Linked DNA regions of Homo sapiens. The protein of the gene in region 2 purifies or fractionates together with the protein of the main gene of each other region. This does not show direct contact. Each region holds a gene or a part of one and is shown on either strand. Other genes may lie near its edges.

Region 1 (3,758 bases), on a different chromosome or scaffold from region 2:
ATGAAAATAAGGATTTGTTGATGTAATTAGTAATGTAAATAACAGGTATACATATAACCTACAAAAAGTTTTCTTTAAACACTATAGAAGCCTCCAGTTACATGCAACAATTATCATGCTATTCAAAATTAACTAATATCTTCATAAAAGTTCCCTTCAAAAGAGTTCTAAAAGATAACATAAGTGCTTAAAAATAATAAATTCTATCTTTAAAATATTCTAAACTTCAGACTTTTAAAAGCTTGAATTAATCTTTATATAAGTAAAATGTTACTGCACTACAAATGAGTACTATTTTAAAACAAACTTACTTTGGCATAAATAAGTGAAATTCTCAAGATATGAAATTTATAAGGCATTTTTAGCCACGGAAAAAGCAGGTAGTAGTATGATTCTTCCATAAGGGCCTCAGACTTTACTTTTATTTATTTCTACCACTGTTTTTGTTTTGCTTATGTTGTACATGCAGCAGTGAACTGTACACTCAATGCAGGTAAAAACCGTCCTTTGTTACTGCAACTGTTGGCTGGACCTATTATTCTTTGTGCATTTGCTTCCCAGTACTTGTGGCCCACACTCTCTACAAAATGAGCTTCTCCTATCTGATAGGGAAGCAGATCTGCTGCTTTGATTGTTTCCTTAATTCTGCGGTGTCATTTAAAGTTGTACTTTAAAGTATTATGTTTTATATTTTTTGAGTCCAGTTCCCTCCTTTCTTGAAGCTACCCTCTTAAACTCCCTGAACAAGAGCCATCTGGAAATCTTGTTCCTGTCCTCCATCCTTTCTGTGAGACCACACCAGCACAGCTGGGTTGCAGCAGGCACTGCCGAGGTGCTGCTGGACTGGCTATGCTCCAGACCCTCACTGTTAACATGCAATTCTTGTCCTTTTGTGTTAAGCATGGTTAGTAGACAAAGCTCAAGACAGTGTTCAGCAGTTCAATCTCCTTTGGGCACAGATCCTAATCTCACAATCACACATGATTTGAGTAACGCTGTTTATATGTAGAACTTCTGTTGCTACATGGTCCCAGTCTGCCCAGTCTCCAAATTGACAGTGTAGATACTTTTCCACTTTTCTTTTCCCCAAGAGGCCTGAACTAAGTACTGTATAGGTTATCCAAACAGAAATATTTTCTTTGTATTAAAGGGACTCCTGTGAATCTAACATGAAGTCAAACATCATTTTTATGCTGTCGAAATCAACAACTTCTACTGTCTCTACTCACTCACCAACACAAACAAAATTTGAAGCTTTAAACCAGCAATGTCCAATAAAACTATCTGCAATGATGGAAATTTTCTATATCTTCTCTGCCCAGTACAGTATCCACTAGCCTTGTATGGCTATTAAGCATTTGAAATGTGGCTACTGCAACTGAGGAATGGATTTTTAAAATCGTATTCCATTTTTAATTAATTTATACTTAAATTTAAACAGACAATGTGGCTAGTGGCTATCAATAATTAAGGGTCTGAGATTTTTATCCTACTTGCAGGCTAACGAAATCAGGGTGCCACAGTTTCATGGGGATGCTGGAAGAAGACAGAAAATTCTAGGGTGAGAAACAAAGGACTATACTACTCACAAAAATATCAGTAGCAGTAGTATCAGCATAGTTGTGCCAATGTCCTGAAACTCAGTTCCCCCCATGTGATGTGAAGCAGATACTTGATGATCTGCATTGTCAGAGGGGAACCCTGAGCTTAGGGTACTTGAATCTTTTAAACTGGACAGTAAAACCTACCTGCCCTTTGCTTCAGAGGGAAAGAATACCTCTATCTTCCAAAACTATCTACCATACAAATGTCTTTAAGAGAGTCTGGGATGAAAGCAGTAAATGCCTTTGCTCACAAGACATGCAAAAGTCTGAGTGACTAATGGAGAATTGAATCCCAACATAGGGGTATCATACATATCTCTGAAATCCACTCATCTCCCACCTGCTTGAATACCTTGCTTTTAGCCACACTTAATTTCTTCCTATGACCACGGTAAGCTTCCAAATGGTTATCTTTCTTCCACCACTGCCTCCTCCCACTCATTCTCTATACAGTAGCTAGACTGCATCTTGTAACACAAATCTCATCTTGTTTCAGTCTTCAATGTCACCCACTGTCCTTAGAATTAGGCCACCCCTCCTTAGCAAGTTCCACAAAGCCAGTGCTTCCCTTGCTTGTCCGTTTAAGGTTTATGCCTTTAGCCACATTAAACTCCTCTCAGTTTCTTACATGTAGAGGTCATAAAGTGGTGGCCCTAGGTTGAATTCCAACTACAGATTTGTCTGGTTTGGCCCACAGAATAGTTTTTAAAACATTTGGGTTAGTTCATATTTGGGAGATTTCATATTTATAAAATATGAATTTTAAGCTCCTCTTTAGAAATCAAGGCATCTGGCAACACTTGGCCTGCATCCCAACCTGACAATACTTGGCTGAAATGAGTATCTACTTTTCCCTTTAGACAGCTTGGATTCTCCAGATTGCCACGCCTCTCCCTCCTGCTCTTACCTATGTATTGTTTAACATTTTCTGCCTGACTTCCATTCTAAGGCATCATGCTCCCTTTGGTCTCTTTCAATCTTCCCACCTCTTCAGCTGCTAACTACCACTCATGCTTCAGGTCTTCATGTATTCATGCTGCTAGGAAGTTTTCCTTCACCACCACCAACCCAATTAGGATGAGATGATGCACTGTGTGACATTCACCTACCCAGGACCCTGCTATCCTATCTTCTGAGGTTCTCTTCACTACCCTTATCATGGCATGAATCATATGGCATTATAATTTTTTAAAAATTTTCTTTATAAATTTATAATTCTCTGTTTACAGATCTGCATCCCTCTCTAGACCTTTCAGTCATAAGAAAGTGACTATAACTGTCTTGTATACCATTGTATGTCAGTGCCTAGGAAAAAGCCAAACGTTTAGTGTGGGCTGAATAAACACTTGTTGCATAAATGAATGAAAAAAGTTAGCTGAGGAATGGCTATTTCAAAATATTGGGGAAGAGTGTATTTATATTTTTATATATGTATTCATTTTTAAAATGTGGACCACTGAAATTCCATTCCTTCCCCCCTCCCCCTACCCTGGAGAAACTAAAATAACTACTTGAGTCATAGAGCAATAGCTGTATACTGGCAATGTGCTAAGAACCACACATGGATTAGCTCATTTAATGCTGACAACAGTCCTTTCAGGTTAGTATTTCATTATTCCCATTTTGGAGAGGTAAACATTCAACCCCAGATAAAATGAAGGCCTTATTCTCCACAACACAGTAAATTGTAGGGATACATGATGACTGAAATTTCTGCCAGGATACCTGAGAGCACATGACACCAACAGCAGCTTTATTCACAGCCCATCTTTTGAGCTATTTGTATGTGGTTTTAATAATTAGCTTTCGCATTCAAATGGTAAAGAAAGTTCTTATACACACAAGAAGCATTTATGGCTATTATACCAGATGACACGGCTTCCAGGGCAGTAAGAAGGATCTTTAATCTCATTTCACAAATAGAAAAACAAAGGTATGGAACAATAAAGCCAAGTGTAAAGTTAACATTATGTCCCTCAGGCTGCCCCTCAGCCTGCCATGCCTTAATGTGAGAGTCCAATCAAAGCCTCAAAGCCCAGTATGTAAAGCCTAATAAATTCTGCACATAGCAGATAGATAAATTCTTCCTAGGAGGAGGAAAAGAATCAGAGATGTCACTGAGTCACACAAAATACAACCTAGACAGAAAGTCAA
Region 2 (3,758 bases):
AAGTGATTCTCCTGCCTCAGCCTCCCCAGTAGCTGGGATTACAGGCATCCACCACCACGCCTGGCTAATTTTTGTGTCTTTAGTAGAGACAGGGTTTCACTGTGTTGGCCAGGCTGGTCTCGAACTCCTGACCTGGTGATCCACCCGCCTAGGCCTCCCAAAGTGCTGGGATTACAGACGTAAGCCACCGCGCCTGGCCTTAGCTTTAAATGTTTTCTAGCAATGCTAGGGTTTCATGAAAATCCTAATTTAGGGATGCTGATCCACAGCTGTTAATACTCTTGACATACTGGGTCAGTGCTTTTCATTCTTTCTGACTTGGTTAATGGATGTAGTATTTGACTGTATTTTTCTGTATTTTTTTGATGGTTTTATTGGAAAGTCTGTTAGAGACTTTAAAAATTAATAACTGCCTATGGTTACTTTTATAAACATTGAGACCTTGAGATCTTGCAACTAGGATAATACTTGGTGATGTGTAATCTATTGCAACATCCCTGATGGTGGTACATACATCACCAATACTGAAAGATTCTCATAAAGGCCTTTTGGTCTCTTATGTAAGTGCCCAGGGGAAACTAAAGTCATTTGGTTGCTTGGTATTTTTGGTGTGTACAGAAGGTTAAAACATGAATTAAACTAGACTCTGAAGTGGTAAATGTTTCCTGGCTGCATCCAGTAAAGAAAACAGCACAAACACCCAAAAGGTGTGGACCCAGCTGTCTTTTTCTCCACTCTCTAAGGTGGGATTGCTGTTCCTACGTACTTGCCAAATATGTCTGCAAATTACAGAATGAATACATTCCTCTCTCTGGAGAGGCAATTACTGTTTGAATAAGAGGTGTATGTATGTGTGGGGTAAGGTTTTGGGAGAATTGATGTAATGATTTCATCATCACTCACTGGTAAGGAGACTTTGCCAGGCTGGAACCTGTTACTTGATGGAGAATTTATTATTAGGGCTTATGTGGCACAATTACTTTGCTGCTGGAAAAAGTTATTTGTACTGAGTTTTCTATTTGTTACAAATTTTAAGAGTTGAGATTTTTGCCCTCTGTGTGTTGCCCTGTGAGTATTAACAACCTCTGCCCACCAGCTTTGTCTTTTTGCCTTGTCTTAATTTTTGTAACAAAAATTCAGATGTCTTTTGAGAGTCATAACATGTATCTTGTGCAATTTTAGCTTTAGGTATTTTCATATATAACTTTAAGAATGTTACACATTATTTTCTGTGCATCTATAACTTAAAAAAAACAAAAACCATTTTCTGATGTGGCTACAGAGGGGGAAATTCCCAGTAGCCAGGAAATTGATACTTTCTACTTTTCATTCTGTGGCATTTTAAAACAGAGGGTTCAGGTGTCTTCATTCTGATATGAGTAGGATGTACGTAGCTTACCAGAATGTTTGAAAAAAATGATAATCCAAGGTAATCAATTCTGGCATGTGGCTAGATTCTGTCCGAGTGCCATGTGGTGGTTTAGTGGTTAAGAGCATAAACTTGGAGTCCATAAGATGAGGATTTTTTTAACTTCATGTATAACATGCAGTAAAGTGTGAGAAGTGTTAATATTAAGCATGAGCTCATGTATGTAAGCTCTCAGATTAAGAAATAAACATTTTCAGTACTGCAGAAGGTTCCTGCGCCCATGTCTTGTCCGTGTTCCCACCCCCTCACCCTGAAGGAACTGTTATTCTTTCTTACATCATCATAGATGTGACTTCTGTCATCATAGATGGGTTTTACCTGTTGAACTTCATGTAAGTGGAATCAGTCATACAGTGTGGCATGTAGTCTTTTGTGAAATAGGCTTGAATTCTATTTTTACCACTTATTGTGTGACTACGGACAAGTTATTTAATCTGAGTCTCAGTTACGTATGGGAATGCCTAAAGTTAAAATTACACGAACTATTTCAGGATAAATTTTCTCACTTGTAAAATGGGGAAGATAAAGCCCTATGTTAGATTTACTGGGGAAAGTAATATAAAGCTACACCTAGAATACCTAGCACTGTGCCTGACTGCAGTTTCCTCTTCCCCTTTTTATTTCTTTAACAGGGTGATAACTAAAGCAACTAGATCTTTTGTGTTTAAATGAGCTATTTCATTAAAAGTTCTGTAGGTCTTTTATTGAAAATTAGAAGACAAATCTTTATTTAATACTTTGTTGATATAGCTTTAGCTTTAAGATGTATTATTTGTTAGTTGCCTGTTTTTGACATTTCCTCTCTAAAGACAGTCATTGAAATGTCCCATTCAGAGTTGTTTGGCCACCTGTGTAACATGAGCTAGGATGCAGTGATGAGAACTGGTTTATGGTCAATTATGGAGCTTGTGGAAGAGTTTAGTTTGGGTAAGAGTCATCAATAAGTGCCCAAGATGCTCACAACATCTGCTTTATGTTTAGTGAAATAATTATTTCAGAGGTGAAAGCACAGGACCAATTATTTTAATTGCTTGCTTCAGACAAGCCACTTAAAACATTTTCAGCTCTTGTAATCTTACCGTGTAAGCGGTATTACATAATTCCATGGCCTCATGTCTCCTTATTTGTTTGGTACTTTTCATTTTTGGACTCATTCTGCAAATGTAACTTGGGTAGTACTTGGCATTCTTTCTAAATGACTTTCATTAAATGTTTATTTAGAAAAAGTATTCAAGATAAAGTAAAGGAAAATAAAACTAATTCCACCCTCTCTCACCACTATAACTACATTAACTTGATGTGGGTCCTTCTAAGTGCTCATTTCTTCTTTTGTACACTTCTAGAATGACCTTAGGAAAAACATACTTCCAATACTTTATGGAAATTTAAAACAAAATATGGGCCTGCTTAGAGATGTCTAGCAGAGAAGGCAAGAGTCTTCGTAGGCCTAAGTTCAAATCTGTCCACACTGTGGTCCCTACTTGTACCTTTGTTAGTGCTGAGCAGACAGTCCCCAGAGACTCCATCAGAGGGTCCCCTGGTCTCCAGATTACAGTAGCCAACACGGAAAACCTGCCCTGGAATACTTCTCCATTAAGACCTCAAGATGTTTGGTGAAGTGAGCAGTTTGTTCTCCGACCAAACACGCATTGATTGAGCACTTGGTGTGTGCCTAGCACTGTGCTTGGCTGTGCGTGATTGCTGCCTTCAGTGGGCAGTGTGGTGGAGACAGCCAGGAACTGGTAAGATTGCCTTGGTAGAGGTGTAAGCCAATTATGTGTTGGAGGCAGCCAAGAAAGGCTTCTTAAGGAAGTGGCCTTTGGGCTTGGTCTTGAAGGATGTGAATAACATTTCAGAGGCAGAGAAAGGAAGGTAGAAGTGCTCAAGGGATTGTAGGCTGAGAAAACAGGACACAACAGAAAGGCTCATAGAGGTCTTTTGGGGAAACAGCAGGTGATCCATTGGGTTTGGAGTGCATGGTGCTTAGAAAGGTGTAATAGGCCATGATGCAATCTCGGGGATCATGCAGAGATGTGGCAGTTAATAGTTATGGAGGTAGTGAGGAACCAGTGAAAGTTCTTGTGGTCAGGGGAGAGAGAGAGAGGGTGTGGGTGCTGACAAGTTATGGCCAGGCTTGCATTGAGGAAGATGGGCCTGAGCGTGAATGAGGCGAGCCTGACCCCGGGCAGGTCATTGCAGTCCCTGCGTTCTCTGCTTCCCATTTGCCCCCTACCAGTTTCTCTCAGAAAGAAGCTGGAGGGATCCTTTAAAAACTGAAATGACTTGAGGTTACTTTTCTACTCAGAATCCTCCAGTCAGAATCCCTGTC
Region 3 (3,089 bases), on a different chromosome or scaffold from region 2:
AATCTTCCTTTAATTTCCCAAATACCACTTATTTTCCTGCTTTCTCTTGTTCAATTTTAACATTCACATTACAATACACTTATTCTGGGACAGCATCGGATTACAAATAAAAAATATGCATCGATAAGCCCATAAGCACCATTTCAAATACTATGTCAATGTTAATTTGATTTTAATAAAGAACATTCTTAATATTAAATGAGCACTGTTTCATGTCTAAAACCGATTTTAAAGAGGTATCTGAAAATGTAGTATAAAGTTATTGCTTTCAAAGTTAAGTTGGCACAATCTATACAAGATTGAACTGAGACAAAAGGAAACCACACCAGTTAACATAACCAATCTTTGTCTTCTTTTAACATTTTATATATCTGGAAAAGCTATCCTTTTACAGTCTTAATAAAAGGGCTTTTTCCGCCATCTAGATACTTAGCTTCTTACATGTTAAGACACATCTAGGATATTACTATTTTTAACCACAGCAACAATTTTTTTTCCAAGTTAGGCAGTATAATAAATGCTTGAAAAACCTTGTGTGAGTTTTTGTGAAGTTCTGTAGGTATATTACTTTGCCAGATAATACAAAAAAAAAAAAAAATTCACAAAGCAAAACCAAGAGTATTTATTTTCATTATTTTAAAAAACTGCAACATTTATTTCACAATCCCTGGAACTGTAAAATAACTATTCTTTTAATTTACAGAATTGAGGGAAGTATTTTAAATGTCAAAATACACATGCTGAATGTGATTTAGCATATAAGCACCAAAAATCCCAAAAGTATACAAAGATTGTTTAAACATATAAGGTGCATTTATTCATGAATTAATTACATTCAGTTTGAAGGAAGAAACAGTACTCCAAAGTTCATCAATATTTAAGAAATTATCCGAATAGCTTCCAACTTGGTTTACAGCTAAATAACAGATACTGCTTTTAGGTTTTTTTATACAATGCATCTAAACTTTAGGTTCGAAATTTAAGTGCTGCCTTACACTGTGAATGGCAGTTTGATCACTAAATTTATGTTCCAGTTTGAGATACTTCATACACAACATATATTTAATGCCCTGAAAACTTCTGCTTAAAAACTGAGTTATTTAGTGAACATCTGAAGGTAACAAAAAAAGATAGATCTTCTATATTTTTATGTAGAATTGGGTATAAAGTCATTTGGGGTCAAACACAATTATTTTTTAAATGTTATCAGTCCGCCCAGTAATAAGAACTTTTGTAAATATGCCACTATAGCTTCGGGCAATAATTGCTATTATGAAGTTAGATAAACACAGGATTAATTTCTTGGTTTACAAATCAAAATTATTGTGATATTAAAGCATGCCTCCTTCCAAACCACTTGGTCAATGCTGATAACAATTAAGAAAAACGTATGCTAGTATTGCTCTAAATATACTGACTTAGCTGTCCTGAATGACCTAATTAGGTTGGGGAGGGGACTTGGCCTGGTTCTCCAGTTCTGTGAAGCTGCCACCTCCAGCCTCACTCTAAATAGCTTATACAAAATCAAGTTATTCCCATAGCTAACACAAATCCAGCAAGCTGTGGTCCTAAATGCCATCTACATTTATATATTTACTTTTTTACTGTGTACATTAAGAATTTTGTTGTGCTTTTCACATATCCGATGTATGTTTTCATATTAAACATTCCTCAGTTTCTTGGGAAGGAAAGAAAAAGATCATGAAAAGAGGTACATCAGGAGAGTCGGACTGTAAAGTAACATTACACACACAACTAGCCAAATCTCTTTTTAATTTAAAAGATAATGTCATCACAACGCAACATATAGAAACATAAAAGAAAATAAAGTATCCACCCTAAAATCCCTATTATTCCATGATATTTTCATAGCAACTAGTATATATATCAATATATTTTTCACAAACCATTCAGTTACACATTGTGTATGCTTTTAGAATTTAAAATATGTATTACCATAGCAGTCTAAACATTGTACTTTTAGGGAAATGTGCGGAGACATGGTTCAGTGATTTGATCATTGTGATGATTATTTACAATGCTATCTATTTACGTTAGCAATAAATAATCCTGATATCAAAAGAGACAATACTCATGCACACACCAAGATGGCTGCATGCTCTTAAAATATTTACACATAGCTCTGCCATTTATAGCTCTCCCATTAAGAGTGAAAGTGCGCTTTCTTCAATTCTCTCCACATTTCCATTAGTCTTGCTTCTGGGGGATGCATCCTTCCATTTCTACAACTTCAGGCCATCCTTCATATTTGTTTGTATCCTTATTGTTCTTTATGTGCTATTGGAACACAGTAATAATATACAGTTTAAAAAACCGTTGTAAACTGCTGATTTGCCGTAACATTTTACACACTTCTCATTTCAGTAATACTCATGTCAACAATAAGTTCATTTAAATTACTGGTCAAGATATTAAATGAGTGACCCTCAGGCTGTATCACATACATGGCAGACCTTCAAATAACAGCTGAAAGAATACATTGCACGTGCTTTTAAAGGATTATTTGCTACTCAAAAACTAACATTTACATTCTACTAAGTTCTAAAATATTTCCAAACTTCACTGATTCTAAAATCCAAAGCTCAATTAAAATCCTTAATAACTAAAGCTTCCGAAAAGGCTTAAGATAGGTAATCCTATTCCAATGCATTGTCCTGTAGGAAAAAATATTCCCATGCAGAATTTTCAAGTTTTGAAATTTAAAAGTACGATAGTTATTTCAAATAACTGATTACCAAGAATTTATGACAAATATATGATCATATTTACTATCCGCTTTATCTAATTTTCAAATAGCTGGGATGGGAAAATGTACCGTAAGGTTTCACAGAATTTGTTTTTGTTAATTCTGAGAGTCTATGACACTAACCTGTTCAAAAGGGCTTTTTGTCTTAATGCCCTTCCCACCACAGAAGACCCAGTTGTCTCTAAAACCAAGATTAGTAATAGATGTGCTCCCCAAATCAGCAATGAGCCGCCGTGCCTCATCATTGAGTCTTGAAGAGGGAGAGAAAGAATACAACAATAAACAGAGGGAACTGTATGCTAATACTGGTTCACTGGGATAT

What was found.
Region 1: the proteins of B3GNT2 (region 2) and PAM purify together in Homo sapiens (affinity purification with mass spectrometry; 3 studies listed by BioGRID and IntAct, with this or other methods). This does not show direct contact.
Region 3: the proteins of B3GNT2 (region 2) and FAM3C purify together in Homo sapiens (affinity purification with mass spectrometry; 4 studies listed by BioGRID and IntAct, with this or other methods). This does not show direct contact.

The regions. Positions count from the first base shown.
Region 1 is NC_000005.10:102,758,162-102,761,919, reverse strand, and holds part of PAM (peptidyl-glycine alpha-amidating monooxygenase isoform e preproprotein), read right to left. Parts: intron 1-3,758. UniProt on the Homo sapiens protein: Bifunctional enzyme that catalyzes amidation of the C-terminus of proteins. Alpha-amidation is present at the C-terminus of many endocrine hormones and neuropeptides and is required for their activity.
Region 2 is NC_000002.12:62,199,040-62,202,797, forward strand, and holds part of B3GNT2 (N-acetyllactosaminide beta-1,3-N-acetylglucosaminyltransferase 2), read left to right. Parts: intron 1-3,758. UniProt on the Homo sapiens protein: Beta-1,3-N-acetylglucosaminyltransferase involved in the synthesis of poly-N-acetyllactosamine. Catalyzes the initiation and elongation of poly-N-acetyllactosamine chains. Shows a marked preference for Gal(beta1-4)Glc(NAc)-based acceptors.
Region 3 is NC_000007.14:121,348,253-121,351,341, forward strand, and holds the end of FAM3C (protein FAM3C precursor), read right to left. Parts: intron 3,018-3,089; coding exon 2,891-3,017; intron 2,299-2,890; coding exon 2,209-2,298; 3' UTR 626-2,208; downstream 1-625. UniProt on the Homo sapiens protein: May be involved in retinal laminar formation. Promotes epithelial to mesenchymal transition.